3 separate regions of the Homo sapiens genome follow, and regions 2 and 3 are each linked to region 1. The links come from fine-mapping of genetic effects on gene expression. A gene starts in region 1. Each other region holds a variant in brackets. All regions are shown on one strand. Distances are from middle to middle.

Region 1 (10,557 bases):
TAACATTTAATCACACAGTGAGAAAGCTGCTTTATATAATGCTTTTTCAATCCTTCTGACAAGGATAAAGTCTCATTTTTGTACGAGTGTTTAACACCTCTCTGACACTGTCCATTCCCTTTTTAATAAAGAACCATCAACCTCAAGCCTGGGGACATGGCACAACCTTTTCTAGCTAGCATTTAACAGTATTGTTCTGCTTTTGTGGTGGTTGCTTTCATTTATGGCAAATAATGCTGACTTTCCATTTTTAGTTTTCAATTTAAGAAAGTGAATCTGATTTAAAGTAAAATATTGAGTAAATACTATACATGGTTGTATATGTATATATGGCAAAAAAAAAAAAAAAATCATGAAGGCAGTGCTTGAGTGACTAACTCCAGGAAACACTGTGTTGCTAGAATCTGTTACAAATGGTTGTCTACTGTAATCAAGACCTGGAATGACAACTCTCCTGAATCTTTTTTTTTTTTTTTTTTGAGATGGAGTTTCGCTCTTGTTGCCCAGGCTGGAGTGCAATGGCACGATCTTGGCTCACCGCAACCTCCGCCTCCCAGGTTCAAGCAATTCTCCTGCTTCAGCCTCCCGAGTAGCTGGGATTACAGGCATGCACCACCATGCCCAGCTAATTTTGTATTTTTAGTAGAGACGGGGTTTCTCCATGTTGGTCAGGATGGGCTCAAACTCCCAACCTCAGGTGATCCGCCCGCTTCAGTCTCCCAAAGTGCTGGGATTACAGGCATGAGCCACCGCGCCCGGCCCTGAATCTTCTTTCCCCTTGTATCCTAGGTCACTCAAACTCCTCCTTATTTGCTCTTGTCATTTTTGGCTTCTAAATATCAAGAGTGTTCTTTCTAACGGTGCTGTCTCTGAACTGCTATGGTGTGGAGTTCCATTCTTCTCCACTTGCACCACCCTTCAGGAATCAGCTTCGTTAGAATCTTCTGCATCCAAATTAAGGGAGAATTTTTTTTCTCCTCTGCAAGTGGTTATGACTCTTTGGCTAATCTTTTGGCTAAGTATTAAGAGGACACTTGAGTAGGCTACTCTCTAGCATATGTAAAGTGTTCCTGCATACCAACTTTCACCCAGTATCACAGAACGAAGTTCATCTACCTCAGGTGATGCTTTCTTGAGCATCTATTCCCTTTCATCCTCTGGGGATGTAATAACTCAGCATCTGACCGTCAGCCCCCAAATGTACCTTACCCACAAGGCCCAAATGATCCTCAAATGGCAATCCTGATGGCCTGCCCTAGTCCCCAGAGTTTCAATTGGATATAGCTTAGGTCTACAATAAAACACTTTATAAAACAAAAATAATTAAAGGCTGAGCATGGTGGCTCATGCCTATAATCCCAACACTTTGGGAGGCCAAGGTGGGAGGATTCCTTAAGCTCGGGGGACACCAGCCTGGGTAACATGGTGAGACTCCACCTCTACAAAAGTAAAAAACAATTAGCTGGGTGTGGTGGCATGCCTGTTGTCCCAGGTACTCAGGAGGCTGAGGCAGGAGGATTGCTTGAGCTACCAGGAGTTCAAGGCTGCAATGAGTTATGATCACACCACTGCACTCCAGCCTAGGTGACAGAGGAATCTGCAAAAGGTGTTGCAATGAAAATTTACCATACTGTTTCTAAGAAGCAATAACTGGAAGTTGAGTCCTGGTGTTTAAGAACACAAGTTAAGATTCTTTATGTTTCTTATGCTTTTTATATTTCTGTAACAGGCTTCATTGGAACTGGGCACCGTTTTATATTGTCTAGATCAAATTGATGCAAGTGAGCAGATGTATTTTGAATATTCACATGCCTAACATATACTAGTACTCTGAGTCAAATGCAAGAATGTTAATTTACAAATATCTTAAATATTCTACCCCCTGGGGAAAGAAAAATCATTAATTTCCTTTGGCAGAAAGCCTCAGGTACATTTTGATTTTCTCCTCATGTCTGATTTAATGCTCTGGTCATATTACAGAGTGTAACTTAAACAAAAACTACATTTTTTTTTTTTACTATCCTGCTTTCACAACAATTGAACTCATATGCCTGTCTCTATGGTTACTTTTTTACAGTGTTCACTGAAATTTAATATGCTCTCCTCTGACCCTCCCCTCAAATACATTAAGTCCACAATGAGGCTATAAACCAGGAGTGAGAAGTAAGGAGGCAGGATTATATACATGATTAAAGTAAATAGTAACCATGAATTTGCTAACCCCACAACTCTTTGCCTAAGCTCTACCTTGGGGATAGAGACTCGTTAAACCTTGTTTTCAATATAGTAAACTGTTACTTACATTGAACTATTATTAAAGAAAATAAACTCTTCAAATTATATTTTGAATGACAATATTTCAAAGTTTATAGCTAGCTATTGCCTCACATCACTGTGTACTGGGTGATGCATGATAAAATATATCATGACCTCTAAGACACCTTCCATATTTGTAATCTTCTGTGAATGTCTGTATGTGAAAGAGAGTGATATTTTGCTAGCATCTGGGAATAAAAAAGATATATAATAAAAATGAAAAGATAAAGATAAAACAAGACTATTTTAGAGTGTGTGTGTTGTGTGGATAGAAAGATGGCAGAAGGGGGGTAATGCAGGTATGTACACGAATCTTTATAACAAAAATGAAAAGGTGACAAAATACAAATATATCCATCTTTAATTTCTTGAGGGCAAGGTCTTTGATCATTTCTTTTTTTTTTGAGACGGAGTCTGGCTCTGTCACCCAGGCTGCAGTGCAGTGGCCCAATTTCGGCTCACTGCAACCTCCGCCTCTCGGGTTCATGCCATTCTCTGGCCTCAGCCTCCTGAGTAGCTGGGACTACAGGCGCCCGCCACCACGCCCGGCTAATTTTTTTGTATTTTTAGTAGAGACGGGGTTTCACCGTGTTAGCCAGGATGGTCTCGATCTCCTGACCTCGTGATCCGCCCGCCTCGACCTCCCAAAGTGCTGGGGTTACAGGCGTGAGCCACCGCGCCCGGTCAGGTGTCTGATCATTTCTATACATTCATTATTTTACTTGTAGGGCTGAACACAATGCCAGGGACACAGCAAGAATTTAATATATACTTGTTAAACGAACGAATGAATGCATGTATACATAAAATGTTACGGAATGTTTAACGTATTCCGGGGATAATGAAAGTGGGTGGATTTCTGAGAGAAGGGGTCAGGGTTAGAGTTCTGTACTGCTAATTTTTTCCCCATTATCCATTCTCTCCTTCTTCTACAGTAATAGTTCCCTTATTTTTAGCTGGACACATTTACCAGCCTCTTGGTTGCTGGGTATATGACTGAGTTCTGACCAATAAAATGTGAGCCAAAGTGATATGTGCACCTTTCAGGTCATTGAAAAATATGGGCTGCCCTCTCTTTCCCCTTCATCCTACTAACCACTGGCTGGAAATGGAAATGGCCTTAGCCTAAAGAAGGAAGGGCAAATCCCTAAGGAGGAAAGGCAGAGGTGGAATTAGGACCAGTTGTCTTTCAACTATACCAGAGTTTTTCAAACTGTGGTCTTTGGGCTGATTGCATCAGAATCGCCAGTTACCTGATAAAAATGCAAATTACTGGGTCTTAGCAACTCAAATCTCTAGGATGGGTTCCAAGGATTTTTTTTTAGCTGGAGGCGGTGGTTCACGCCTGAAATCCCAGCACTTTGGGAGGCCGAGGAGGGAGGACTCCTTGAGCCCAGGAATTCGAGACCACCCTGGGCAACATAATGGGAACCCTGTCTCTGTTATTAAAAAAAATTATTACAGACGGCGCAGTGGCTCACGCATGTAATCCCAGCACGTTGGGAGGCCAAGGCCGGCAGATCACTTGACGTCAGGAGTTCGAGACTAACTTGATCAACACGGTGAAACCCTGTCTCTACTAAAAATACAAAAATTAGCAGGGTGTGGTGGCGGGCGCCTGTAGTCCCAGCTACTCGGGAGGCTGAGGCATGAGAATCACGTGAACCCGGGAGGAGGAGGCTGCAGTGAACCGAGATTGCGCCACTGCACTCCAGCCTGGGCGACAGAGCGAGACCATGTCTCAAAAAAAAAATTATTACTATATTTTAAAAATATTTTAAAGAATGTGTAGTTTTAACAGGGACTTCAGGAACTTGTGAGTTAAAACCACGGAACTACGTCAGACTACCTCAAAAATATCCCCAAATGTTTATAAACAAAGCCAAGGGCACGCACTCAGGCCCGGTGAGGTCCAGGAACTGTGCAAGAGGCCTCTGGCTCGGAGGGGCTGAAACAGGTGTCTCCGCGCGCTGGGGGAAGAGCGACTCTCCCGGCAACAGGTAGCACCCGCCAAATCCCGCGGGAACGGCCCTCGCGCCGCGCCCCCTGCCCCACCTCCGCTCGCGGTTGCCATGAAGACCCGGTCCGGGAGCAGTCGACTGCCGGAGACTCGGGAGGCTGAGCTTTCCTCGGCCTGAGCCAGCCAGACCCCGGGCACCGCGCTCACCCCTCTTCGCCGCCACGTCCGCGAAGGCCTCACGCGCGAGGCCAGGCGAGGCCCCGAGGCGCCCACCACTTCACGACACCGGAGCGAACCGGGCGCCAGAGGCTGCGACCCCCCTGCCCCGAATCCTGCCGGTGGGAGTGGCTGCATTTGAACCAAACGGCCTTCGCGGGCAGCAGCCGTCGCCCCGCAGTCCCGGGGCTCCCAAGGGCCTGTGACCGACGCCGCCCTCCGCGTCTTCGTCCCCGAAGCCCCGGGAACCATCCGCCCTCGGGGTAAGGGAGGAGTCGGGGGAGCCGGTGACTGGGCTGTGGGGACGCGGACGGGGCTCCGGGGGCAGCTCTGCCCCCAGACTGGCTTGAGGGAAGCCGTCGGTCTCCTTGGGGCTCTTCTCCCTCCGCCGCTGCACCCCTCCTCGCTTTTTTTTTTTTTTTTGAGCGTCCCAGGCTCGAAGTCTGGGACACTCAGATGGGACGGGAAATGCTCCCTCTTAGTCTTTAAGGCCACAACGAAGGGGGCCACCCACAGGGGTGCTGCAGAAAGAGTGATTTACTGCAATCACCTTCTCTCTTCACAGAGACCATGCTGCAGATGCGAGGAAAGCCGTTTCCTGGAACATCGGAATTCTAACCCCAGGGTGAAGGACTCACGACAGGCGAGGGGCAGACATGCTGAATTCCACGGGCGAACTGGAGTTTTCGAACGAAGAAGATCCCGAGATCATCTCCCAACTCACTTCCCTGCCTCTGTCCGGTGGGAAAAGCTCAGCTGGTGTGCCCGAAAAAACGGGCTATCCGGACTCCGTTTATGTCATGGCAGCCAACATTTTTCAGGGTATTCGAATCGAAAAGTCGGCACAGAAAGTCTTAATCAAGTATGGGAATGAACCCCTGCGGTCCTTGTCCGAGTCTGAGGATCAGTCCTTTCAGCGTTTGTCTTATGAGCTGGCTTTCAGTGCCCTGAAATGTGAGTTGTGCCAGTCTGGAAGATCAACACTAAAAGAAAATAATAGCGAGAGAATTTGGGGAATGCAGCCCTCCTCCTCCCTTCCCCTCATTCACACCAGGTTTTGGTTTTAGGCATGTGCATATCTTTGGTTAATTGCAAGTGTCAAGGAATTAGGGTTCCCATGAAACTAGCTCTTCCAGCCCAGGATTGCAGATTTCCCCGTGCACTGTGTTTGTCCTTAGATCGGTGTAGTGCGCGGTCATTACATTCAACAAGGAAACAATTTATTCCAATGATCATTTCCCTCTCCCTGTATTTTTTTTTCCCTCGTAGACTTAGGGGTCTCGCTTTATTGTCTGGGCTGGTCTCAAACTCTGGACCTCAAGGAATCCTCCCTCTTCAGCTTCCCAAAGTGCTGGGATTACAGGCAGTGAGCCACCACGCCTGGCCTCCCTGTGTATTTCTTTCCATTCCCTGTGTTTACCTTTTTTGGTATTTTAGTTTATGAGCTTTCACAAATATAAAACCAGTGAGGGAGGATGGGGAGAGGAACAGAGACGGAATAAAAAGAAAAGGTGCAAAATTTAAAAAATGAATATCAAAATTACACCAACCCCAATTAAGACTATCCCATTCATAGCCACTAGCTTTAATGGGAGGAGCCAAACTTTAGTAGAACTTCCCTTTCTAATTTGCTTTCAGGGTTTGAGACTCAAGGATGGTTAGTTATCAATCTGAGGCCAAGGGTGGTTGCTCAGGCCTGTAATCCCAGCACTTTTCGAAGCCAAGGTGGGAGGATTGATTGAGCTCAGGCGTTAAAGACCAGCCTGGGCATATAGTGAGATCTCCTCTCTACAAAAAAAAATTTAAAAATTAGCCCAGTATGGTGGCACATGTCTTTAGTCCCAGATACTTGGGAGATTGAGGCGGGAGGATCGCTTGAGCCTGGGAGGCAGAGGTTGCAGTGAGCCAAGATGGTGTCATTGCACTCTAACCTGGTGACAGAGCAAGACCCTGTGGAATTGACACTAGGAAATGACCAAATATTGCTACTATGAGGAGAGCAGTCAAAAGGCTTGAAGTTGTTTGTTTTCGTACTAGCTGTGACTAAAAACTTTATGTTGGTTTGTAAACTGATTGAATGTAGTTCCAAAAAGAAGTTCCAGAAATGTTTAGAATATTAGCAGCATGGCCAAAATGATGAGCAGAAGCCTTCCTAAAGAGACACCTCAAAAAGGGCAACACTCTTTTGCATGATTTTCTTAGTACTTAATGAGCCTTGTACATCCTTGCTCGTAGGAGGCAGTTAATTACTCAGTTCAGCCAGATGCGGTGGCTTACACTTGTAATCCCAGTACTTTTGGAGGTGGAGGTGGGACGATTGCTTGACTTCAGGAGTTCAAGACAAACCTGGACAATATAGCAAGACCCCATCTCTATTTTTAGTTTTATTTTCTATTTTTTTGAGATGGAGTCTCACTCTGTCGCCCAGGCTGAAGTGCAGTGGCACAATCTTGGCTCACTGCAAGCTCCGCCTCCTGGGTTCACGCCATTCTCCTGCCTCAGCCTCCTGAGTAGCTGGGACTACAGGCGCACGCCACCATGCCTGGCTAATTTTTTGTATTTTTAGTAGAGACGGGGTTTCACGGTGTTAGCCAGGATGGTCTCCATCTCCTGACTTTGTGATCCACCCACCTCAGCCTCCCAAAGTGCTGGGATTACAGGCGTGAGCCACTGCACCTGGCCCCCCATCTCTATTTTTTAAAATTAAAAAAAAATGCTCAGTTGAATTAAAATGTCTCACTGATTATTTAGACAGGAATATATATTTTTGGTTGTCTGCAGAGAGTCTCTTTGTTTTTTGTTTCTTTGTTTTCTCCTCAGTAATTTTTCTTTTCCTTTTAAGTCCGTCTTAACCATTCTTCCTCCAGTTTAATCTCTGAGATTTTATTTCATCCATCTTCTTCCCCTCTCCCCTAACCAAAGTGTTGTATTTCATGCAATGAATCAAATGAACATTTTTATACTTTTTTTCTCGCAACAGTGAAATGCAGACTGGGCAGCTGTGTTGATTAATTGGCATTTAATGTTAATGCTAGAATTTTATTCTAGGCAATTTGTTCTCCTAATGGAATATTGAGTATTACCTTTAGTACTCAATAAGAAAAGCCTGAATTATAATTCTATATAAAATTAATGCATTAACTAAATGATTGTATTACAGTGATATGTGTGATAGATTATTATTTTTGTCCTCTCCCTCCTATTTTCTATTTTATGAAAGATCTTGTAATTATTTTATCTTTCTTTTTTTTTTTTTTTAGACAGAGTCTCACTCTGTCACCCAGGCTGGAGTGCAATGGCACAATCTAGGCTCACTGCAACCTCTGCCACCCAGGTTCAAGCACTTCTCTGCCCCAGTCTCCCAAGTAGCTCCCAAGTGGCACCTGCCACCACGCCTGGCTAATTTTTTATTTTTAGTAGAGATGGGGCTTCACCATCTTGCCCAGGCTGGTCTTGAACTCCTGACCTCGTGATCCACCTGCCTTGGCCTCCCAAAGTGCTGTGATCTTTCTTAATGACACAGAAAATCCCATTCAAATAAATTGTCATAAACCTTTATGAAACTTCTTTTCTTGAAACGTTCGTTTTTATAAGTTCAAATTATAAGGTAAGATGGTATTGTTTACTTGTTAAATATATTTTTTCTTATAATAATACGTTGATATGGTTTGGCTGTGTCCCCACCCAAATCTCATCTTGAATTCCCACGTATTGTGAGAGGGACCTGGCGGGAGGTAATGGAATCATGGGGACAGGTCTTTCTTGTACTTGTTCTCATGATAGTTAATAAGTGTCATGAGATCTGATGGTTCTATAAGGGGGAGTTTCCCTGCACAAGCTCTCTTCCCTTGTCTGCCGCCATGTGAGATGTGCCTTTCACCTTCCGCCATGATTGTGAGGCCTCCCCAGCCATATGGAACTGTAAGTCCATTAAACCTCTGTCTTTTGTAAATTCCCCAGTCTCGGGTATATCTTTATCAGCAGCATAAAAATGGACTAATACAACAGTCTTGCTTTAAATTATCAGTAATTCTTGAATGTGCAAATAGAATAAAATCAGAATTTTATGTAGTGGATTTTCCAAGATAATTAGGAGCCTGCTATTTTCCTTTTTTTTTTTTTTTGAGACAGAGTCTTGCTCTGTCACCCACGCTGGAGTGCAGTCAATCGCGCAATCTCGGTTCACTGCAACCTCTGCCTCCCAGGTTCAAGCAATTCTCTGCCTTGGCCTCCCAAGTAGCTGGGATTACAGGCACCTGCCACCATGCCCAGCTAATTTTTGTATTTTTAGTAGAGATGGGAGTTTCACCATGTTGGCCAGGCTGGTCTTGAACTCCTAACCTCAGATAATCTGCCCACGTTGGCCTCCCAAATTGCTGGGATTACAGGTGTGAGCCACTGCAACAAGCCATCTGCTATTTTACTTTTAAAATATTGGAGGCTCTTATGCATTTCACTTTTATCTTCTGTATTATCAGTGTTCTGTCAATACTTTCACATGTGATATTTTGTAAACTTACATCTGGCTTATACAGTATAAGTTCAAGGAATAATGATTCAGAAAAGAAAACTCAGAATTTCTTCCCTAAGATTTTATAGGAGCTGTAAAACTGCAAAGGTTATTGTGAAAATTAAAGAGAGCTTGAGTAATGGTCCCTTTTGTTTGTGAATTTGTGAACAGGTAATTAAATCACATTACCATAATATTTAAGGAGTAGGAGAAGAAAAACAATAACAGAAAATCTCTTAATTATACTAATGTTAACTGTATTCCTTTGGTTGTGTCTTATGCTTTTCAGTTTTATTGTTTGTTCCTTTGCTGATGTCCTTCATTGTATATAAGATCTTTCAAGACAGGAAGTATATTTATCTGATTAACCTTTTAAAGATTTAAAGCGCTCCGTAAAATGTTTTTTGAAATGAAGAGTGCCATTATTTCTGCTTTACCAAATAACCCCAAGGTCAATTTTCTGCTAACGAAGGTAGAATTACTAATGAAAAGTTGCCTATTCCTATTGAGAGTTTTGTCAAAGCAGTAGAGTACCAGTAGCCAATTAATTAATTAATTTATTGATGGAGTCTTGCTCTGTCGCCCAGACTGGAGTGCAGTGGCGCGATCTCGGCTCACTGCAACCTCTTTCTCCCAGGTTCAAGTGATTCTCCTGCCTCAGCCTCCCTAGTAGCTAGGACTACAGGCACATGCCATCACGCCCGGCTAATTTTTTGTATTTTTAGTAGAGACGGGGTTTCACCATGTTACCAGGATGGTCTTGATCTCCTGACCTTGTGGTCCACCTGCCTCGGCCTCCCAAAATGCTGGGATTACAGGCGTGAGCCACCGTGCCTGGCCTAAAATTTTTTTTTAAATAAAAACCTGGCAATTTTTTTTTAAAGAAATGAACAAACAACAAATTTAAAAAAAAATTGGAGAAAGAGATATCCCTGAAATTGCTTATCTTTTTCCTGGCTTCTTTCTCCACCTTCTCTAGGTTTATATTTTTGTTGCTGAACTTCGAATCCCAGGAACTGATTGTAGCATTAACCTGGTGATTTCAGAATCATATAATCTGTCAGTGAGAAACAGTAAATGCTTAACATATGGTTTGGTTATAGCTTTTGCGAATTAGTAACTGTAGTCAGGGGTTCCTAAGACCACCTCCAGATTCAATAATTTGCTACAAGGACTGACAGAATTCAGCAAAGCTGTTATACTCATGGTTATAGTTTATTACAGTGAAAGGACAGATTAAAATCAGCAACAAGTAAAGGTACATAGGGCAGAGTCCAGGAGAGACTAGACGCAAGCTTCCTATTTTCCTTTCCCAGGGTGGTCTATGGAGAGCGCTTAATTCTCCCACCAATGATAAATAACAACATGAATGAAGCATTGTCAACTAGGGAAGTTCATCTGAGCCTTGCTGTTTGTTTAGCATTTTTATTGGGGGGTCAGTTTTGTAGACAAGGTGCAGTCGTGTGGCTGGCTGACCTTAGTTATTCAGTCTCTAGCTTCTTCAGAGACCAAGCCGATACTGTGTGGTCTAGGACCCCAGGAAAAAAAAAAAGTA
Region 2 (10,557 bases), 120 kb after region 1:
TGAATATGGACTACATTTCACAACCTTCAAGTTTAAATGGAAGAGAGAAAAAACATTCAAGTGTCTAAAAACTTAGGTACCAAATCACGTTATACATCATTTTGGGGGAAGACATCATTCTCTGGCAATAAACCGCTCACCCATGAAATGAAATAATCCTTCTAGGAAAGAATGATTCATTATTTAATAAACATTTGTCTGTTTTTGACTTCACTAAGAAAAATAAATGGGAGGAAATGCTCCAGGAATCTCAACAAGCAGCCTCCTCTGCCTCCAGCCCACTGTGCCCACCACTGCCAGTGCAGATGAGGGAGGGCAGAGTGAGGGGCAGCGCAGAGGGAGGGACAACATTCTCTTCTGAGTGCTCACCAGGGGACAGGGACCCGTGCCAAGCCCTCTCCCATTTAATATCTTACAACCAAGCTGCATCGGGGTTCCAAAGCTTCCATCTCTACACAAGAGGGCCCTGGGGCACAGTGTGTAACTGGCTCAGGGTCAGCCAGCTAACAGAGGCAGATCAGGAAGCCAACCGGTGTGCCTCACTCCAAAAGCCCTTTCATTTAAGAAGTCATATAATCTGTACCACCTAGAGGAGAGACAGCTGGGTGAGGAAGATGGAGGAGCAAAGCTGGGTAGCAGAAGGGGCTTCCACTGCCCTAACTGTAGAAGGCTGAAAAATATCCCAAAGAAATCAGGTCCTAATCCCTGGAACCTGCAAATGTTACCTTATAGGTATTATATACATATATGTGTGTGTGTGTGTATACACACTCTTTTTTTTTTTTTTTTTGGAGACCAAGTCTCACTCTCACCCATGCTGGAGTGCAGTGGCACGATCCCGGCTCACTGCAAACTCCGCCTCCCAGGTTCAAGCGATTCTCCTGCCTCAGCCTCCCGAGTAGCTGGGATAACAGGTGCATGACACCACACCCAGCTAATTTTGTATATTTAGCAGAGATGAACTCCCCACCTCTGGGGATCTACCCGCCTTGGCCTCCCAAAGTGCCGGGATTACAGGGGTGAGCCACCACCGCGCCCAGCCATACATATATATATATGTGTAAGTGTCTCTCAGAAGGACACTTATGACTGGATTTAGGTCCCACTCAGGTAATCCAGGATAATATCCTCAGGTCAAAATCCTTAACTTAATCACATCTGTGAAGACCCTACTACCCCGCACCCGTTTATTTTTTTTGAGACAGAGTCTCACTCTGTTGCCCAGGCTAGAGGGCAATGTTGCAGTCTTGGCTCACTGCAACCTCCACCTCCTGGGTTCAAGTGGCGATCCTCCCGCCTCAGACTCCTGAGTAGCTGGGACTACAGGCAAGAGCCATCATCCCCAGTTAGTTTTTGTATTCTTAGTAGAGACGGGGTTTTGCCACGTTGGCCAGGCTGGTCTCGAACTCCTGGCCTCAAGTGATCCGCCCGCCTTGGCCTCCCAAAGTGCTGGGATTACAGGCATGAGCCACCGCACCCGGCCTCAACTCCTTTTCTGAAGTTTCCTCTTCCTTCCCTCATGTGGGCCTCTGCACAAGGTAATTGGAGTGTCCATATTAACAGCTAAAAGGAGTAGGAACACTGACCCATTAATTTAGAATTCATGGTTTCAGACACGGTTCAGCCACATTTTTGTATAAAACTGATTAAGTCGTGTAAAAGTTCTAGGTCTCAGTTTCCTCATCTGTAAAAGGGACATAATGCTACACCCTGTAGTCCTGAAAGGACTAATGGAGATAGACCCTCAGTAAACCATAAAGCATTGTGTCAAAACATGCACAGAGTTCTGATTATTCTCCCCTCATTCTCCCCTTCAGATAATCAAAAGTACTTTTAAGCATCTAATATAAGGATAACATCATGTTGAAGCACACACAAGGAAATCTAAGATATGGTGATGGCTGTCAAGGAATTCACAGTCTAACCAGGGAGACACACATCTGTGACATTAGTGACAACCCGAGGTTGAAGAGATCTAGTACAATGAATATATGCATGACTACAGAGCTGAAAGACAGCACAGGGCATGGTGTGCTGTGAAGATTCACTCCCATTTGTAGGGGTGGCGTATATTTCCCCAACCCTTGAAGTGAGGCGCAGTTACGCATCTTGCTTTGCCAATGAAATGTGAGCAAAAGCGCTAAGCATCATTTCCAGCAGAAATGTTCAGTCAGCGCATCTTTTCCTTCTGCCACCATTGTTGCCAATATTGTAGTCTAGATTGTGACTTTATCATCAGCTTTAGACAGAGAATGAGGACAATGACAAAGGAAGCCGTGTCTTCAGCCAACCCACCATGGACTTTTAGCAGAAAGAATTGTTATAAGCCACTGAGATTTTTGGTTGTTATTACAGTCTAACCTAGCCTGTGCTGAAGGACACGAACGGTGACAGAAAGGCTAACAGAACAGGTGGGACCTGCACTAAGTCCTAAGGATAGGGATGTCACATAACACTGGCATAGGGCTTGACGGTCATGTTAGAAAGTGCTTCATGGGACTCATGAGCCCATGTCATTACCTGTCTGTTCCTCTTAGCACATCCCATGAGGGCAAGAACCATGGCGTTCTCATTCATGGCTACATCCTTGGTGCCAAGCATGGTGGCAGACACATGCTAGGGACTTAACACATGGGTATCCAATAAATCCCCAGAAAGCTAGATGGGATCAATAGAGGAAGAAGGAGGGAGAAAAGGAATTCTACGGCTTGACATCTCAAGTTAGGAATGAGGATGATGTGGCCTTGGACATGAAGAAAGCCAACTTTACAGATCACTGTAAGATACACAGGAAGAAATCTGGTTAAATTATAATGATAAAGGTTAAAAAAAAAAAAGATGGCGCCGGGTGCAGTGGTTCACACTTGTAATCCCAGCACTTTGGGAGGCTGAGGCGGGTGGATCACCTCAGGTCAGGAGTTCGAGACCAGCCTGGCCAACATGGTGAATGCCCATCTCTACTACAAATACAAAAAAATTAGCTGGGCGTGGTGTTGCGTGCCTGTAATCCCGGCTACTTGGGAGGCTGAGGCAGGAGAACTGCTTGAACACAGGAGGCGGAGGTTGCAGTGAGCTGAGATCATGCCACTGTACTCCAGCCTGGGCGACAGAGTGAGACTCCATCTCAAAAAAAAAAAAAAAAAGATGGTACCGTATATGGATGATGACAGCCATTTCTATCCTCCTGCCCTGGTTAGCATACTTCTGTGGTATAATCTGCTCTACCAGTTCTGGGGCCTAAGAGAATGACTGACAATGTTATGATTAGAAGTGACCCAAGATTTGACAACTTAAGATCTATATCTCCTCTCTTTTTTAAGAAGCACTCTAATTTGTACAGTGTAGACATATTTAAACCTTATCTTTTATTTAAAAAAAATTTTCCCTCTTAATTTTCAATCCTTGACTTAGTGAATTTAATTAATAGTATCAGGTTTTATCTTTCTTAATAAATAACTTCTACAGCTTCTCTTACGTCAATGAAGAAGACAAAGCAACTCTTAAGCTCAACGCTGTACAGAGATGAATCAGAACATTTCCTTTAGGCAAGAAGGAGCTGAGACAATTATGCTAGACCACTGAGTTTGTGGGGGAAATATATTAAGAAATTTCACACCGTCCACTAGCTAAAATGCTTTTAGGAATTGCTGCTACTCTTCGCAATGAGATCGCTGGTGGTGGAGGAAACTGGTTTGGCAAGCAAGTATCTTTAGGGCTGAGGTGGTTCTGTGCACTATTATTCTCTGATTAATGGGGAAGGCCACGGGTGTCATTTGGATAGGTCAATAAATATTAATTGGCTGTAGGGATAGATTTTTAACTTTGTGTTCTTTTAGTTGCTTAGGGATTTTACAGGGGGAAAAAACCCGCAAAATACTCCTGTTTTAGAATGCATAGCATTTCCCAATTATTGAATAATAGAGAAGTCAGAGAAAAAATCTGTATTTTATACACTCATTGGTTAATGGGGCATTACAATTGAACTCTGTTTATTTATCAAAATTTATATCCTATTTCCTTCCCAAAAGAATTAAGTGGCTTACAATAAAAGGCACACACAGTCTATTATGTTCTAAATTTAGAAAAGTAAAATTTAAAGCCAAATATAAGGAAGAGAAAGTAATTCTATAAATTAACGAGGCGAAATATTAGTTGGAACCACATTCAACCATTTCTGATCCACAAAAACAGCAATGTTATATGATTCTATCTGATTTAATTACTGCAATTGCAGGTTTAATTTAACTTGAAACTTCCTAGCAAAAAGGGAAACATGATAAACTATACTATTTTCCCTGTTAACTAAATTCTTACATGCATATCCTTTGAGAGACAATATTTTCTAGATACTGAAATCTAAAAGAAATCTGCATTTCAGTTTTTTATCCAAGGGCAATTTAACAATATAAAGGACGTCTTCAGGGATGATATTACCAAAGAAGTAGAGATTTCCTTCCTGGGATCATCACTTACAACTGTATTGACTGAATGCAATGGAAGTGCTGTTCGTAAGAACACAACACTTTTCAGAGAAGGCACAGGAGGCGGGGGCAGGGCGGGG[G/A]GTGGAGATAAGTAAATGAAAGTCTGAAACTCTAGCTTTGTTATCCTGTCCCCTGATACAATGTTATCATTCAGAATCCCTAGAACAGTGTTTTCTGACCTGGTGGGTCCCAGAACTGCTGGCCCTCTGAAGGTTCGCCGTTAATGAAGCCAATAATATGTCTTCTGCTCATCTAGTGTTGACTGCGGGACAGCTCAGACCCTTCAACAGCTGAGGGTGTGTTTTAGGGGCTTTCTCTGAGAATAGAACATTGCATACAGTGTTTCCCAAAATTATGTGAGTGTGGAATCTCTTTTTCTTTAAACACCAGTTACTAAGCTGGTAGAGTGCTCAGCTCAAAAACTTCTTAGAAAATTTGACTGAGATCAGTATTATTCAAACTATGACCAATCAGTGGTCACAAACAGCGTTTTAAAAGTTAAAAGAGTAGTAAAGAAAAAAAATCAAAAAGCAGGGCACACAGTGCAAGTCAGAGCTGTTGTGTGACATTTTTGGTAGTTAAGTGTGTGAAGGCACAGTCCGGTGCAGCTGGGTAAGTGCCTGGCTCAGCTGTGCTGCCTGGGATGGGGGCAGGCAGGGGTGAGACCTGACATGTCACATCGTGGGGTTTGGCTCCATCCTGAGCAGCAGGGAACATGTCATGTCTTTTTACCCATCAGAAAAATCACTTGGGTTGCTGATTGTCAAGGACACAGACAGAGATGGGAGTTAAAGATCAGGGGTGGACAAACAGGTATAAGAAGTAGTTAAGAAAAATTAACCAACACTTGGAAATAAGACAAAAGGAGGACAGTGTGTCTTTCAATGTCACAGTAGAGCAACACTTAATGGACCCTCCTAAGGATTACTTACTTCACTAGGGGAGTCCCGTTCAACAGAAATACAATGCAAGCCACATTAAGTAATTTACAATTTTCTAGTAGCCACATTAAACAACTGGAAAATGGAAGTGAAATTAATTTCAATATTTTATTTAAGCTAATATGTCCAAAATACTATCATTTCAATGTGTAATCAATATGAAATTGTTATGAGACATTTTACATCTTTTTAATACAATGTTTGTGAATTCTGGCATGTATTTTACACTTTACAGCACATTTCAATTCAGACCAGCTACATTTCAAGTGCTCAAGGCCATCACCGAAATGAACAGCCCAGCTCTAGGGAAATGTATTTTTATCTGACTTTGCTAGTGATTAGGGCTCAGACTCTGGGAGAGTAGTTGTTAATTTGTAGAACATTAATATGTTACAAGTAATGTTTGCAACTTTCTGCTAAGAAAAAAAAAAATAACCCCAAAGGTGAGGATTTCATTGCCAGTAGAACATTAACCAGTTTTGTATCCACCTTAGTCATCTATTCTAGTATTTTCTCTTTTCCTCTAGCTGCTGTTATGATCTGTGTTATGCCTTTGGTTTCAACTGTTTTATTAGGCTGTGTCTAGGCAGCAGTACATGTGTGTTTGTGTATGTGTGTGATTCTTCCTGGCTTGAGGTTTTTTGAAACCTTTTCAAATTCTTGAAAGCACAAGTGCTTCCTGGTGGCTTGGTTATCAGGTTTAGAAGATTCTCAGCCTTTCTTAGGTTCCTTTGAACTGGTGTTGGTAGCCAGCTCATGAGTTAAATAAATCTTTGGCATGCACTCACTGCATATTTTAAAACTTTTATTTTAAGCAACCTTATTGAGTATAATTGATACACAATAAACTGCATATATTTAAAATATCCAATTTGATAAGTTTTGACAATATGTACCTGTGAAACTATTACCACCATCAACATAATGAGTATATCTGTAACTCTCAAAGATTCTTCCTGCCTCGTTATAATCCCTGCCTTCTGTCCTTTCCCAGGTAATCACTGAACTGCCTTCTGTCACTACAAATTAGTTTACCTTGCATTTATAGAATTTTACATAAATGCAATCACACACTACCTTTTTTTCTGGTCTGGCTTCTTTCACTCAGCACAATTATTGTGAGATTCAGCACGTTGCTGTATATACCGTTGTCGCTTGGTGTCTGCAGGGAATTAGTTCCAGGACCCCCAACGATGCTCAAGCCTCTTATATAAAATGGGACAGTATTTGCATATAACCTATGCACATCTTCCTGTATACTTTAATCTCTAGATTACTTATAATACCTAATACAATGCAAAACTATGTAGATAATTGTTATATTATTTTTAAAAACTTGTATTATTTTTCATTGTTGTATTTTTTTCCAAATATTTCCCATCTGCAGTTGGTTGAATGTGTCGATGTAAAAAATCTGCAGATATAGAGGGCCGACTGTATCAACAGCTGGTTCCTTTTCACTGCTGTGTGGATATCTGTTATACAATATACCATGGTCTGTTTATCTATTTACCTGCTGATGGATATTTGAATCATTACCCACTGTCAATATGACAGCCTGTTTTTAACTCTGACCTAGGTATTAAGGAGGTAGACTCTTTAGGGCTGACCACCACTATGGGTGGGGAGGACCCACAGGAGCAGGGTCGGGGGCTCCCACACTGCTGACCTGTGTACTACATGGCAGAGCCATTAACCACAGTGGCTCAGCATAAGTCCAGTGGATGAACACATGCCGAAATGAGTGAATGTATGAATGCAGAACACGGGAGAATAAATAGAAAGAACAGCTTTGAAAATGGGGTCAGGAGTCTGTCTTGGCCAACGTGGAGTATAACAGATTTGCCTTGGCATCCCAGCAGAAAGCTGTTACCCATCTGAGAGCAAAGGTGGCCTAGCCTAGGTTAGCCAAGGTTGGGCCATACCCACTATTTACACCCTCGTGGCACGTGGTTAGGAAAGAGACTTCTCTCAAAAGACAACTCAATTCTTTGGAGCTCAGATGCTGTTTATGGACTTAGGGGATGACGTGTGCCCTCTCATCCTTGTTCCCATCCTCATTCCAGGTCTGTATAAAGGCAGGTCATGTAGGGGTGGGGTGCTGAGGGCCAGGGTCAGAGGGGATCAGATACTTTCAATCTGAACTAAATCTCTATTTCACAGATTTGGTAATCAAAGAAGGGTCAACTCTTTGAAAAATGGCATTAATGCCTTAATCGGTGCTATATATAAAATTCCTGCAAACTCATCCTGCTGTGCCCTGTTTAGTTCACCTGCTGGGACAGACCTGGTTTTAGGACCTCACAGGAACATTTGATTCTGTGAGTTGAAGATTGAGACTTGCAGTTTTCTAGTGTTGCTTCCAACAAATTCACTCAGGAGCTCTCCTTTAGGGAGGAGGCAAGAAGGATTTAGGGATCAGGGAGGTAGGAGCCACGTGTCATGAACTATTGTCCAGTGGCAAAGTGACTCTTAACTCTATCATGACCTGCCACACCCCGGGCAGAGCAGCTCAGGGTACAGGGCATGGGGCTCGTGAGCCCTGCCTGAAGATGGCTCTCCAGTGGGCAGGGTGCTTGGTGCAGAGAAAAAGCAGCCCTTGAAAATGCAGCTGGAGCATTTTCCTAAAGGGGCAGACTTGGCAAGACAGGGTGGGTGGCTGAGCATTAGAGAAGCAATCAGGCCGGACTCGGTGGCTCACGCCTGTAATCCCAGCACTTTGGGAGGCTGAGGAAGGCGGATCACTTGAGGCCAGGAGTTCAACACCAGCTTGGCCAACATGGCAAAACCCCATCTCTACTAAAAATACAAAAATTAGACGGGTGTGGTGGCACATGTCTGTAATTCCAGCTACTCAGGAGGCTGAGGCATGAGAATCACTTGAACCCGGGAGGCTGAGGTGAGTTGACATCTTGCCACTGCACTCCACCCTGGACGACAGAGTGAGACTCCATTCCAAAAATACCAAACCAAACCAAAACAAAACAAAAAAAACAAAATAAAAGAGAAGCAATCAGAAGCTTATCTAATGCACTGCCCGCAGAGAGAAAGGCACCTGTGTCTGCTTGGCTTTGTCCTCCCCATCACGTTACCTGCCTGTTTGCCATGTCAGCATCCATCTTCATCCACTGTGTCCCTGCCATGCCCCCTGTCCGGATCTCCCTCAGAGACTGTAACTGTGCCCCCTAACTCATCCTCTCCCGCCTCAGGACTTTCAAATGTTTCTTCCTCTTTGGAGTATTTCTGGTATAAAATTTCTGACTGAATGAGAACATTTTCTGGGTTTTATTTTTCTTAGTCTCCCCTCCCCCATCACACTCTTCTAGATGAGTGAATGGTGTCAGAGCCCGTCTGTCACCCACTCTGTGTTCCTTTATTTATAGCCTTGATGATTCTTCCAGGGTTTGGAGAGGTTTATTCTTTCCATTTTAAGTCAACTCTCTGGCTCCCTTCTTTTTCTTTGGCCCCACGTCTGATCTGGCATTTCCGTCCTCTGGCTGCCATGACCGCGCCTGCATGATTCTGTTCCCAAGAGCTTTTTACTCTTGGAAATTGGGTTCTTGCTTGAGGACTCTGGGTTCAATTTCCTAATTCTTGTCTTTGATTTCCTTTCCTGTCTTCCCTTTTCAAACAAGCACATCCCTAGGCCACTTTTTGGGGAATAGCCTAGAAGAACAGAATTCCCAGTTGAAGTTATAACAAAGAAACATGAGACCCAGTGCCTGAGCCCAAAGTGTGGGTGCTGCTCCGAGGGACTGCAGGGAACATAACTCTACTGTCTTCTTATCTTAAGAGAGAGCAGTGTGCAGGAGGAGACTAGAACGTGGGACCTGGAAGGAAACTGGTGCAGCCTCACATGGACTCACAGAAGCAGGAACTCTTGGCTCCCAAGTGAACAAGACTTTTTCAGTCCACCCAAAGGCTCAAGGCTAGCTGAAAATTCATGACACGATAATTCTCCTACATTCTCATTTTTCTCTGTTAAAATATAACTCCTCTGAACACAAGCCATTCCAAAGCTTGAGTTCACAGCTCTGATACTTAAACACCAATTCTGACTTCATAAGAGGGTTAGAAAAATACAAAGCCATTTTGGGGGGCTCTGAACAACAATTTTAGCCTTTGAAGGGCAGCATCAAATAGCTCTAGGGAACTCTATGAAGAGTCACCAACTCGTTAGTTGAGACTCACTATGAACTAGAGATAATTTCTAGATATTAAAAAGACAGAATAATACTAAGCTCTCATGTTAAATTTCTCCTTATTTTTAATAATATGTTACGGTTGACCCAGGACAATATTTTTTTTCTTTCTTTTTTTTTTTTTGAGATGGAGTCTCACTCTGTAGCCCAGGCTGGAGTGCAATGGCACAATCTCGGCTCACTGCAACCTCTGCCTCCTGGGTTCAAGTGATTCTCCTGCCTAAGCCTCCCGAGTAGGTGGGATTACAGGCATGTGCTAACACACCCAGCTGATTTTTGTATTTTTAGTAGAGACAGGGTTTTGCCATGTTGGACAGGCTGGTCTCGAACTCCTAACCTCAGGTGATCTGCCCGCCTCAGCCTCTCAAAGTGCTGGGATTACAGGCATGAGCCACTGCACCCAGCAGACCCAGGACAATATTTCAAGGAAATATTACTATGTTAATAAAAAGAGTGTCACTGGGAGCGATGGCACTTATGACCCTTGCATGAAAGGACCTCCATATTTCAGCTACGTCAGTGATGATCTCCAGTGCGGATGGAGACAGTGGCACACAGAGCGCCCCTAACATCAGTGCAAAGGAAGAGGCACAATTACATTGCAAATGGTGAGATTCCTACTCCAGTGTTCCTTCTCTTGACCTACTCTAGCTCTCAAAAACTCGACACAATGAGACTCCTTGAGTTCCACCTGATGTTCTCAAATTCTTCTTTCCCAGTGACGAACTGTGCTGCACTAAATTCATAGTCACTGGACTCCCCAGGAAACCAAAAATCTCAGGATGATGACATTTGAGTAAAAAGGTTCCAGGTGACAACTCGTGTATGAAAAGTGGTGACTGCACCTTCCTTTGCAACAAGAGGCTTTTAGCAATTCTTCAAGCACCAAACCATGCACTGAACATCTGCATAAGTTCTGGGTTATCATGGTTA
Region 3 (10,557 bases), 68 kb after region 1:
ACAAACAAATACACACATACTTTCATACATACTTTTTGGCCATGGCAGAAAGTGTCTGAACATACTCTTTAACATAATTTTACAAAATTAATTTGCATTTACTATACAATGCCATTTTCAAAACAAAACGTCTGCAAAGTTTTCAATATGTAAAGGCTATCATTCATCTTAATGCATCCTATAATTGCACATATAAATCAGTTTGCTACTTAAAGCTAGCTCAGAATTCTTGATCTTGAAAACAAGCAAATGTATGCCTTAAAAAATGAAGAGGGAGTTCTGGTAGAGATTTCCAATATAAAAGTGGGTAATTTGTTTAGAATTTTGAAATTTATCACACTAAAATGTTTCACTACAGCGACCGAGATGAAAGATCACTGTAAATGATTTCTGAACAGCTTTTCAAAGGGCACAGCAAGGATTTTCTTAATGCAGTAATTTCTTATGATGGCACTGGTTACTTCAGATCAGTAGTATGTCAATTGGTGAAAAACAGACTGCGTTTCTAAAGTAGCATAGTTTTGTCATAACATTGGGGTGCTAAGACAATTCCGGTCCCCCTGTCCCCCACCCCTCATGAATTCTGAGGGAATGGCAGGTAGAAAAGCCACCCACTCATTCCATCATGATCTCTGGTGGCTAAGTACCATGAGTTAGGAATGTCTACCACAAGTAGCATCTGGAAAATCTCGTAGATGGAACAGGCTGTGAATGTAGAATCCTGCCCTCTACAACACTTTTGAGGCACGCTGTAGGAAAACAGTCCTGGACTTAGATAGGGCACCATCATGAATACCACTGCGTAAGGAATTTGGACATCTTTCTCCCACTCGTGTAGGGAATTCTAAGATTCCCTGACAATAGATCTTTCCATACCTGCTCTTCTTAGTATATGCCCAGAATCATTCTGGAAAGGCTCTTCCTGACGGATATGGAGGCAGCACAACACAGCAAGAACGGGCTTTGGGAGCCGTGGGTCCTAGTCCTGGTTTTCATGAACTTTGGTGAGATCTTAGGCCAGTGGGTTTAGCCTCTCGGTACTTCATATTTTTACTTCTAAAGTGTATTTAGTACCTTCTCTACCTGGTAAGGCTCAGATGTGATAAGAATGTGGAAACCATTTTGACAAGTACATAGCAGTGTATAAACATAAAGCATTACTTTTATAATTGGATGTTGTAAATGTTAATTTTGACATTAAGAAGAAGTAAACAAGACTAATATTGAGATTGATCGCCTTAGCAACTTCCTTTTAAAACGACAATGTCAACGAGAGTCTAAATTTGTATGTCTTTCCAGCTAAGTTTCTCACCTACATACGAAGGAGCAGGAAAATGCTGTTTTGGGAAACTTGTTAAACAGTCCATTACTCCTGTGTAGACTTTGCTCAGGTATGAACATTTCAAATCTTCAAAGTAAAATGGAAAAAATATAAATTAAAAAATATATCTAGTTGAGTCCAACAAATTCTAATATTAAATACATAAAATCAAGGAAAGGTTCAACCTAATGTAATTTGTTGCCATGGACAATACATGATGGACAGACAGCTTTCTGGGCAAAAAGCATCAGAGGGGGATAGAGCTGGATGCAGAATTCCAGCAGAACGTTTACCTCTAGCACATGGACTAGCAAAAATCACACGGTGGTAGAAATCTAAAATAATCGTGCATGATAGAAATATCAATGATATTTCCTCAACTTCAAATTGCATATCAGCTAATTCTCAAACTAAGGATGAAAGGCTGATGAGGAGTATTTCATCTTAATGTTTATGTAGAGAATGGCCATAGTGAACTATAATTCTCTAGCTGCACCGTACAATATAAGGCAGAAGTTTGAAATATGTCCCACCCAAAATGCATTATGATTTTATTAATCTCTTTTAAAAATAATCAGTTTGAAAACCATCGGAAAAGAAAGGCTATGTTTTGTTCGATTTTAATTCCTCGAATTTAGTTTTTCATCAATTTTGAAGTTTCATTTTTTTCCAACATCCCACAAACAGCTGTAGACATGAAATGGTGTCCATGTGTCAAAGAGCTTGTCAGGGAAAGCTGCCAGTTGGTTTCTATACTGATGCCAACAGCCAATTTTGTCAACCAACAGGTTCAATTTTATGAAAAATTAAAACACAAACTCGCCATCCTATTTTTACAGCAATTCAATGGTATCTGCTATGCAGTGCCTACTCCAATGTTGAAAACAGGGCAAAGTGCTGTAGGACTTAAAGGTTGCTTGTGACAGGTCCAGCCAAGAAGACAGTGAAACTAACTCACGCATCATTCATTCCAAGGACGCAGCGTTAGTTCACTAGGAGGGGTGGGGCCACACTCTTCTCTGTGTGTGTGTGAAGTTAAGTAATGTTCACAATATTTACAATAAGAAAAAGACCTTCCACTGCGCATGATGTAACTTACAGCAAAAAAAATTATTCATGCTTCTTTTCATATCACATGATGGTGGCAAGACGAGAGAACATGCTTGTCTAACACTGCTTGGTTAAGGGTAAATTCTCTGAAGACAAAGCATCAGCAACTGGATGGAAGGTCGGATGGCGGAGTTCATTTTCTTTAGTGTAGCTAGTCAATCTTCAGGTAAATAGCCGAGTCCTTTTGCATGTGCAGCTATGGCATTTCGGTGACAGGGCGTTTCTGTTTCAAAGTGTCAATGAGGGATAAGACCCCTCGTTTTACATTGGTTGTGACTCTTCTGGTTACTGAATCTGCTGGCGGTGGAGGTGGTCGAACTTTCTGAGAAGGCGGCCTGGCTACCAAGCACTTCTGATATCGTAACTGAAATAAAACAAAACGTGTTTTAAGGTAATTAACAACATATTATTTCATCTTTAATATGACTTTAAGTCATGACCCATAATACATTGACTCCCAAAGGTTAACGACCTAGTTCCTAAACATAAATCCAAGAGTTATTTTTCTCTGAATGTGAGTGCTTTAAATTCTCCTAAAAGATTAGGCTCAACAAAGGGGTTTTGGCTTTTGCCACCCTTTCCTTCCATCCATTTCCACCCTCCACGTGTCCTCTATATTGATAGTCCGCAACGAATACACCTCACAGTCAATGAGCTAATGAAACCAGAAAGGATTGGGAGAGAGTGTGTTAATTACATTTTTCATCAGAGACATGCAAATCTAGGCAGGTGCTCATGGTACACTGACAGCACAGTAGAAAGGGCATAGTTTAAGGTCTATCACTTGTGAACCCCAGACGAATTATTAAATCTCTCTGAGCCTCAGTTTCTTCAACTGTAAAATGGCTGAAGAAAGGACTATTTACAGAGGGTGTTATGATTAAGTAAGTAATACTTGTAATGCTTGTGGAATGCCTGAAATAGGCCTAGCAACACAGAAGGCATTCAGAAATGTTTGTTTCCTTCCCTATTTCCTGTTTTAATTAAAAAGATGAGGTATTAAGATTTCAAGATACATGGTACATACAAGTCTAAATCTTTATGGATTAATTTTTAAAAATCCATTAGCACTGGCACCAGGGATAATTCCTGTTCTTCAGAAATATAACAATGTAGTCCACCTGGTTTTGCATAATGGGAAGATAACTAATTCTTTAAGATTAGATAAAAAGTTAAAATTTATCAAATTTTTTTTTTTCTAATCCAAACGTTTTAAAATACAGTTGACCTGGCCAGTCATGGTGTTTCACTCCTGTAATCCTAGCACTTTGGGAGGCTGAGGGAGGCGGATCACTTGAGCCCAGGAGTTTGAAACCGGCCTGGGCAACATGGTGAAACCGTGTCTCTACAAAAAATACAAAAATTAGCCAGGTGTGGTGGCACATGCCTGTGGTTCCAGCTACTTGGGAGGCTGAGGCGGGAGGATTGCTTCAGACTGGGAGGTCAAGGCTGCAGTGAGCTGTGAGCATGGCCACTGCACTCCAGCCTGGGCGACGGAGTGAACCCTGTCTCAAAATAAATAATGAAAAAAAAATACAGCTGATCTTTGAACAACAGAGTTTGAACTGTGCAGGTCCACTTATATGAGGATTTTTTTTCAACCAAACACAGATTGAAAATAGTATTCCTGGTATGCAAAACCCAATTACTCAGAGGGCAGACTTCTCCTATGCGTGGGTTCTGCAGGACCTGAATATGTAGGATTTTGGTATACTCAGAGGTCCTAGAACACCTCCACCCCGCCCCACGTATACCAAGGAAGGACTGTCACTCCATGGCTTTTTTAAAAAAAATCAACTTAAATATTAACAGGCTCTTTAGTAATGGAATAGGCTGATGTCCCTGTAAAAAGCAAGACCCTGGGGGAAGGATATGGTACAGTGTTCTATCATACCCCTTAGGCCACAAAACAACCCCTTTCAAATCAATCATATGAAATATGATGATTGATTACACGTCTCCTCTGTGTAAGGTATTTTACTAGGCCCACATCACAACCCAAACCACACACATCGAAAGCACGGATTTATACATGGCAACATGGGACTCTGGACTTGGAATTTCAAATAGTAGTCACGTACATCCAGTGTGAATCAAAACCACACCTAAGTGTTGGAATTCATAAAGGGTCCCTCTCTGTTCTATTCTAAATTTTGCCAAAATGTCTTCTGTTGGGCCTATACCACACAGCTGTAAAATATGCCTAAAAATTAAGCAGATTCAAAAGAACGTTAGTGTCAATAGATATTCACATGGTATAAATTCACATACGGACCATTCAGAGGAGAATCATGCGGATTTGAACTAAGAAGAAAGCCCCTGAGCTAGAAACACTGGATTCAGAGCGGGCAGGAGAGAAGAATGGTTTGATTTTACTAGTATGCCTTATACTAGATTGGCTGAGCTGTGTCCACTCGTTGCAGTGATACAATTAAAA[T/C]AGGAAGCAAATGAGTAAAAGTTGTTTCCAAGAGGGAAAATGAATTGAGAATCAGAAAACCAACTGTAGCCAAAGAGATAAAACTCATTGTCGTTATCACTTAAACGTATAATTAAGTCGGAAAGCCATTCATTTTATGACTAAAACCATCTGCTATGATCTGTTTCAATTTCATAAAATACCAAAATAGTTGTCATCCATTTTCGCTTGGCTGAAATCTCCCATTTTCTATTTTCTTCACAGATCTCCTTTATCTCATCAACTCCCTGTACCTGGTCAGTGGGTTCACCTGACTCCTCTACTGTCCCTGCTCCCCTGAACCCCAGCCCTGCTCCTGCATATTCAGGGTGTCTGAGTTAGAATCCTGGCCCTACAGTTCTTGCAGGGAGTTAGCCACTCTCACAGAGGATGGTGTAAGTGTGACACCAGATAACAAGTGTTCAACGCCAGGCCTCCCCTTCTCCCTCCTTCCTGCTCTATTTCAAATGATAAAGGTCAAATGCCTCTTTTCTACGCCCCACCTTTGCAATCTGCTCTCCCACCTCATCCTTTTAACATTTTTATTAGACATAGGGCCTTTCTATGTTGCCCAGGCTGGACTTGAACTCCTGGGCTCAAGGGGTCCTCTCATCTCAGCCTCCTGAGTAGCTGGGACTACAGGTGCAAACTTTCCCTTCATTCATAACCTCACAATGTGCTGTATGGGGTGGGGGGGCGGCGGTCAGAGAACTCCCTTTCCTTCCCCAAGCTCCACCCATTCTTGGTTCTTAGCATCTTCTGGACTATGTCAAAGTAAAAGGTCTCTCTAACTAATTCGTAGGCTAAGTCCCTCCCCTTGGCTCTCTTTTTTTTTTTTCTTTTTTTTTTTTTTGAGACAGGGTCTCACTCTTTCACACAGGCTGAAGTGCAGTGGTGCAATCTCAGCTCACTGCAACCTCCACCCCCAAGTTCAAGCCATCCTCCCACCTCAGCCTCCCTGAGTAGCTGGGACTACAGGTACATGCCACCACGCTCGGCTAATTTTTGTATTTTTTGGTAGAGATGGGTTTCACCATGTTGGCCAGGCTGGTCTCAACCTCCTGACCTCAAGTGATCCGCCCGCCTCAGCCTCCCAAAGTATTGGGATTACAGGCGTGAGCTACTGTGCCCAGCCTCCTCCACTCTTTATCTACCTCCATTTTCCACAAAAGAAAACCTAGCTGGGCATGGTGGTGCTCCCCTGCCGTTCCAGGGAGGAGTTCAAGACCAACCTGGGGAATATAGCAAGATCCCATCTCTTAAAAAAAATAAAATAAAATAAAAATAAAGAATAAAAAAGGGGCAGGCCTCTCCTGTCCTGAAATAAACACATGAACAAACCCTCCAATGCTGCCCTTCAAGCTCCCCCTCACTGGCAAACTTTGTAAGTTATCTGCTTTTAGGGCCTCCACTTCTTTTTCTTCCCAGTTACTTCTCAATCCAGCACAGTCTCATACTTATTTTTCTTATTTATTTTTTTGAGACAGGGTCTCGCTCTGTCACCCAGGCTGGACTACAGTGGTGCCATCGTAGCTCACTGCACCTCGACCTCCTGGGTTTGAGCCATCCTCCCACCTTAGCCTCCTCAGAAGCTGGGACTACAGGCATGTGCCACCACGCCCGGCTGAAAGTGAAGATCCTCATACTTTTATTTACAGCACTTTCTACACTGTAACAGAGTTTAGGTTTCTGTGTCTCCCCCACTATACCTGAGCTCTACAATGCAAGGACTGTATCTCAGTCATGCTGAATGCCCCAGATTCCAGCCCGTAAGTGCGAGGCTGAATTAAATGAAGCCCAGGGGCTTCACATGCAGCAGTTCTCCCCCAGCCAGGCAGCTCGGTGCTTCTCAAAGCCTCTGCTCCTGTTTGTTCCCAACGCTGCTCTCCTAGCGTGGACGCTCCTCCTCTCTCCCATCTGCAGAAGGTAACTGGGCTCCTGGCTGATCGCCACCTCAGCCTTGTTCCTCCAACCTATCCTCTACTTGGTTGTCTTCTTTTTTTGCTGGATACTCGTCTAAAATCTAAATACAGGCTGGGTGCGGTGGCTCATGCCGGTAATCCCAGCACTTGGGAGGCTGAGGCGGGTGGATTACCTGAGGTCAGGAGTTTGAGACCAGCCTGGCCAACATGATGAAGCCCCATCTCTACTAAAAATATAAAAAATTAGCCAGGCGTGGTGGCAGGTGCCTGTAATCCCAGCTATTTGGGAGGCTGAGGCAAGAGAATCACTTAAACCCAGGAGGCGAAGGTTGCAGTGAGCTGAGATCGCGCCATTGCACTCCAGCCTGGGCAACAAAAGCAAAACTTCATCTCAATAAATAAATAAATAAATAATCTAAATACAATCAATTCAATCCCCAGTTTAGCAATCCTTGCTGAAGAAAATCAGGCCCCCACACGCCATCATCATAAGCCCGCCATGATCTGGACCGCACCTCCTTCCACTCGGGCCCAGCACCCAACCTGCTGCTGCTGGAACACACCTGCCCACAGGCTTTGGTGCCCACACTCATATAGCTCCCTCATTTTTTTTTGAGATGGGTTTCCCTCTTGTTGCCCAGGCTGGAGTGCAATGACGCGATCTCGGTTCACTGCAACCTCTGCCTCTCAGGTTCAAGTGATTCTCCTGCCTCAGCCTCCCGAGTAGCTGGGATTACAGGGATGCGCCACCACGCTGGCTAATTTTGTATTTTTAGTAGAGACAGGGCTTCTCCATTTGGTCAGGCTGGTCTTGAACTTCTGACCTCAAGTGATCCGCCTGCCTCAGCCTCCCAGAGTGTTGGGATTACAGGCGTAAGCCACCACCCCCGGCCCAGTTCCCTCATTTTTATTAGAACTTTTGCAGTGTCTGGCATAAGAGGGGCACAAAGACACATGCTGAAGGAATAATGAGGGATTCTTGTTTGTTTCCAAGTATCCATGTGGTATAAAGAGCTCTGACTTTGTCACCTGGCAGCTTGGGGCTGAATCCAGGCTCGGCTCTGTCACTTACCGACAAGCCCTGAGGCCCATTCTCTAACTTCCCTAAAGTCTCTATTTTCTCATAAATAAAACAGAACTAACAACTACCTAACAGAGTTGTCGGAAGGACTGAGTTAACAGATATAAATAAAATATATAAGAACGGTGTACAGAAACCAATCACTGGAAACAAAAGTCATTCAATGTATTGATTTTTAAAGTACTGAATTGAACCCAAACAGTACCAACTCATACACGACCAACATTTCACACATGAAATTGATTTGGGATCAAGGATTGACCGTCGTCAAGGTGGTGGTTATGAAACTCATCGGAGCCTCTATCTGGCCCCACTTCTTTCAGGAGTTCTGGCCTTTGGAGATGTAATCTGTTTATCATAACTGATTCTGGCCCTAGGAATGACGGCGTTATAAAGTAAAGCATTACTTTAGGGATTCGACTTTTTTCATTTCCGTGAGTGATTCTGCTATAATGTATGGCATATTAGAGATGAGCAGAGGCGGGAGGGCTCAACAGCCTGTACCGGGATAACTCACCATGCAGGCGGCCTGCACCGCCTCAGACACGTTACCAGCATTAGGCTCGCACCAGAAAACGTGGCACTCAAAGCGCTGGTTCCCCGTGTCCATGATGAAGGCAAATGTGTGGACGTCCTTCCCAACACCCATGAAGGACAGGAATCGCACACGACATTCCACTAAGACTTCCTCTTCATTCTGCAAGAGACATTATGCGGCATCCAATCAGGAGATCCCAGGATCAAGCTTAAGAGTGGCAGCACATAGGAACTGGCATTCAGAAAGTATAGCCAGGCCGAATTCAGAAAGGACCTGTGTTTTTCTCGAAAGGCGGAACCTTGCCCAAATGTCTGAAGAGGCCATCACTGCATGGCTACCCTGTTCTGGAGGTCATTCTTGCTCTGAACTACACTGCTGTCATGGGGTGTGATGTGGGTCCCATTCTCCATTATGCTACGTGGCTGTGAGTTCACTGTGGGGAGGGACAGTGCCGTCCATACTTCTTACATCTAGCCCAAATACAGGACACCTGGTGGCCCAAAACCCATTTGGCCAAGTAAACCCCCAGAGCACCAGAAAAAAGGGATTCACGGTATCTTTCTTCGTCCAGTGATTCTTACCCAAACTAAACAGCACACTGAATCACATTTCCATCTAAAACCATATAAAACAAAAAGCTGCCAAATCAACAAAAAGTTGTCAAATTGTTTTTTTCTTTTCTCTCTTGCAAACTGGTGTCCATCTGGGATCCACATGAGGCAGCGTAAAGAAATGTTCAGAATTCTTTCTCATAGGGATGAACACCACATCCTTTGCAAGAACCATATGCAAGTTTTGAATTAATAAACACATCCAAAATGTTGACTTTTGGATCATTAACATCTTGACTAATTAAATATTCACTCTAGTGCCTTGGGAGTGTTTAATGAGCAAAGTACACTAGTGTGAGAGGTCGGGAAGTTTTCTCAGGAGGAAGGAGGCTGTGGTGGTGATCTGGGTAAGGGTCGGGTAGGCAGAGGGTGGAGCATGGAGGGTGCAGTGCTTGCGATGATGCTGGTGTGGGGAAGGGCGGGACCTACTTGAAGAGGTGAGGAGAGCTCAGTGTGGCCAGCTGGAGGCAGGCAGTGAGCACCCTGCTCCTCTCTCCAGGGTGAACCGGGCAGCTGTGGGGCAGGCTGATGACTGGTGGTCTTTCCCTGGCAGGTGCTTCACAGAGGCAGAATAGAAAAGTGGGCACAAGTCTGGGCCAGGTTGCCTGGATTTAAGTCCTGATTCCATTGCTTCCAACTGTGTGATGCTGGGCAAATGACTTAGCCTCTCTGTGCTTCAATTTCTTCAACCACGAAACTGAGATAATTTGGGCTGAGGCTAATGTGGCCTCTTCTCAAGACAACCAATAGCTCCTTCTGCTACTGATAGTCACAGGACTCTCCCAAATGGAAGCATCTTCTGCTTTTCATCCCCAGATCACACAGCCCAGGCAATACTGGCGCCCTGAGAGTGAGCGACTACTAGCGTCACACACTCACCTCTAGCAAACAATTTCTCTCTGGGGCACATGAGGAAGACAGAATCAGAAGCACCAGAAGAGAAGTTTCTCAGGCCACAGGAAAACAGAGGTATGCACAGATTTAGACCCAGACAAAGGGCCAAATCTTTCAAATGTAGGCCATCTTAATCACAAGGATGCACAACTCCGGCCTTGACTATGTTCCTAAGTTCCACAGAAAACCACTGTATCTTATACTCACTGTATAAGACACACCAATGTCATCGAAGATTCCTTCTCACCTTTTCACTGATGACAGTCACAGTGGCATCAGCCACGTTCATGTTCACTGACAGCCAGTCCTCCTTGTTGGATGAGGTCATAAGATTTTCTATGGCACTGTTCAAAATATCCATTCCTGGGGACAGAAAAGGATAATTTAAAGTGTCCTAAAGCCACTTACCACACTCAAATGTGGGCCCAAATCACCAATAACAGCTACGCCCAGACTGATCTTTTTTTAATAGACAGGACACTTCATTCTCATGTTTGCTCAACAGGAATGAAATACCAGCTTCTGGCCGGGCGTAGTGGCTCACGCCTGTAATCTCAGCACTTTGGGAGGCTGAGCCAGGATCATTTGAGGTCAGGAGTTCGAGACCAGCCTGGCCAACACGGTG

Evidence for each region. PIP is the estimated chance that this variant, and not a neighbour inherited with it, causes the effect.
Region 2: its variant is the best candidate, but not a certain one, in a credible set for the expression of NSUN7 in aorta (GTEx, PIP 0.70).
Region 3: its variant is the best candidate, but not a certain one, in a credible set for the expression of NSUN7 in whole blood (TOPMed, PIP 0.66).

What each region holds. Positions count from the first base shown.
Region 1 is chr4:40,745,546-40,756,102 of GRCh38, forward strand. It overlaps NSUN7 (NOP2/Sun RNA methyltransferase family member 7), which reads left to right and starts at 4,410. Exons shown (of 12, transcript NM_024677.6): 1 at 4,410-4,755; 2 at 5,058-5,446. The coding sequence starts at 5,149.
Region 2 is chr4:40,869,962-40,880,518 of GRCh38, forward strand. All of the region lies in intron 12 of APBB2 (amyloid beta precursor protein binding family B member 2), which reads right to left. Among named protein-coding and RNA genes, the nearest start is that of NSUN7, 130 kb to the left of the region's middle. The variant G/A (reference allele first, on the strand shown) is at 4,562.
Region 3 is chr4:40,813,465-40,824,021 of GRCh38, forward strand. APBB2 (amyloid beta precursor protein binding family B member 2) reads right to left here. Exons shown (of 18, transcript NM_004307.2): 16 at 10,180-10,295; 17 at 8,407-8,586; 18 at 1-2,795. The coding sequence ends at 2,628. Among named protein-coding and RNA genes, the nearest start is that of NSUN7, 69 kb to the left of the region's middle. The variant T/C (reference allele first, on the strand shown) is at 4,869.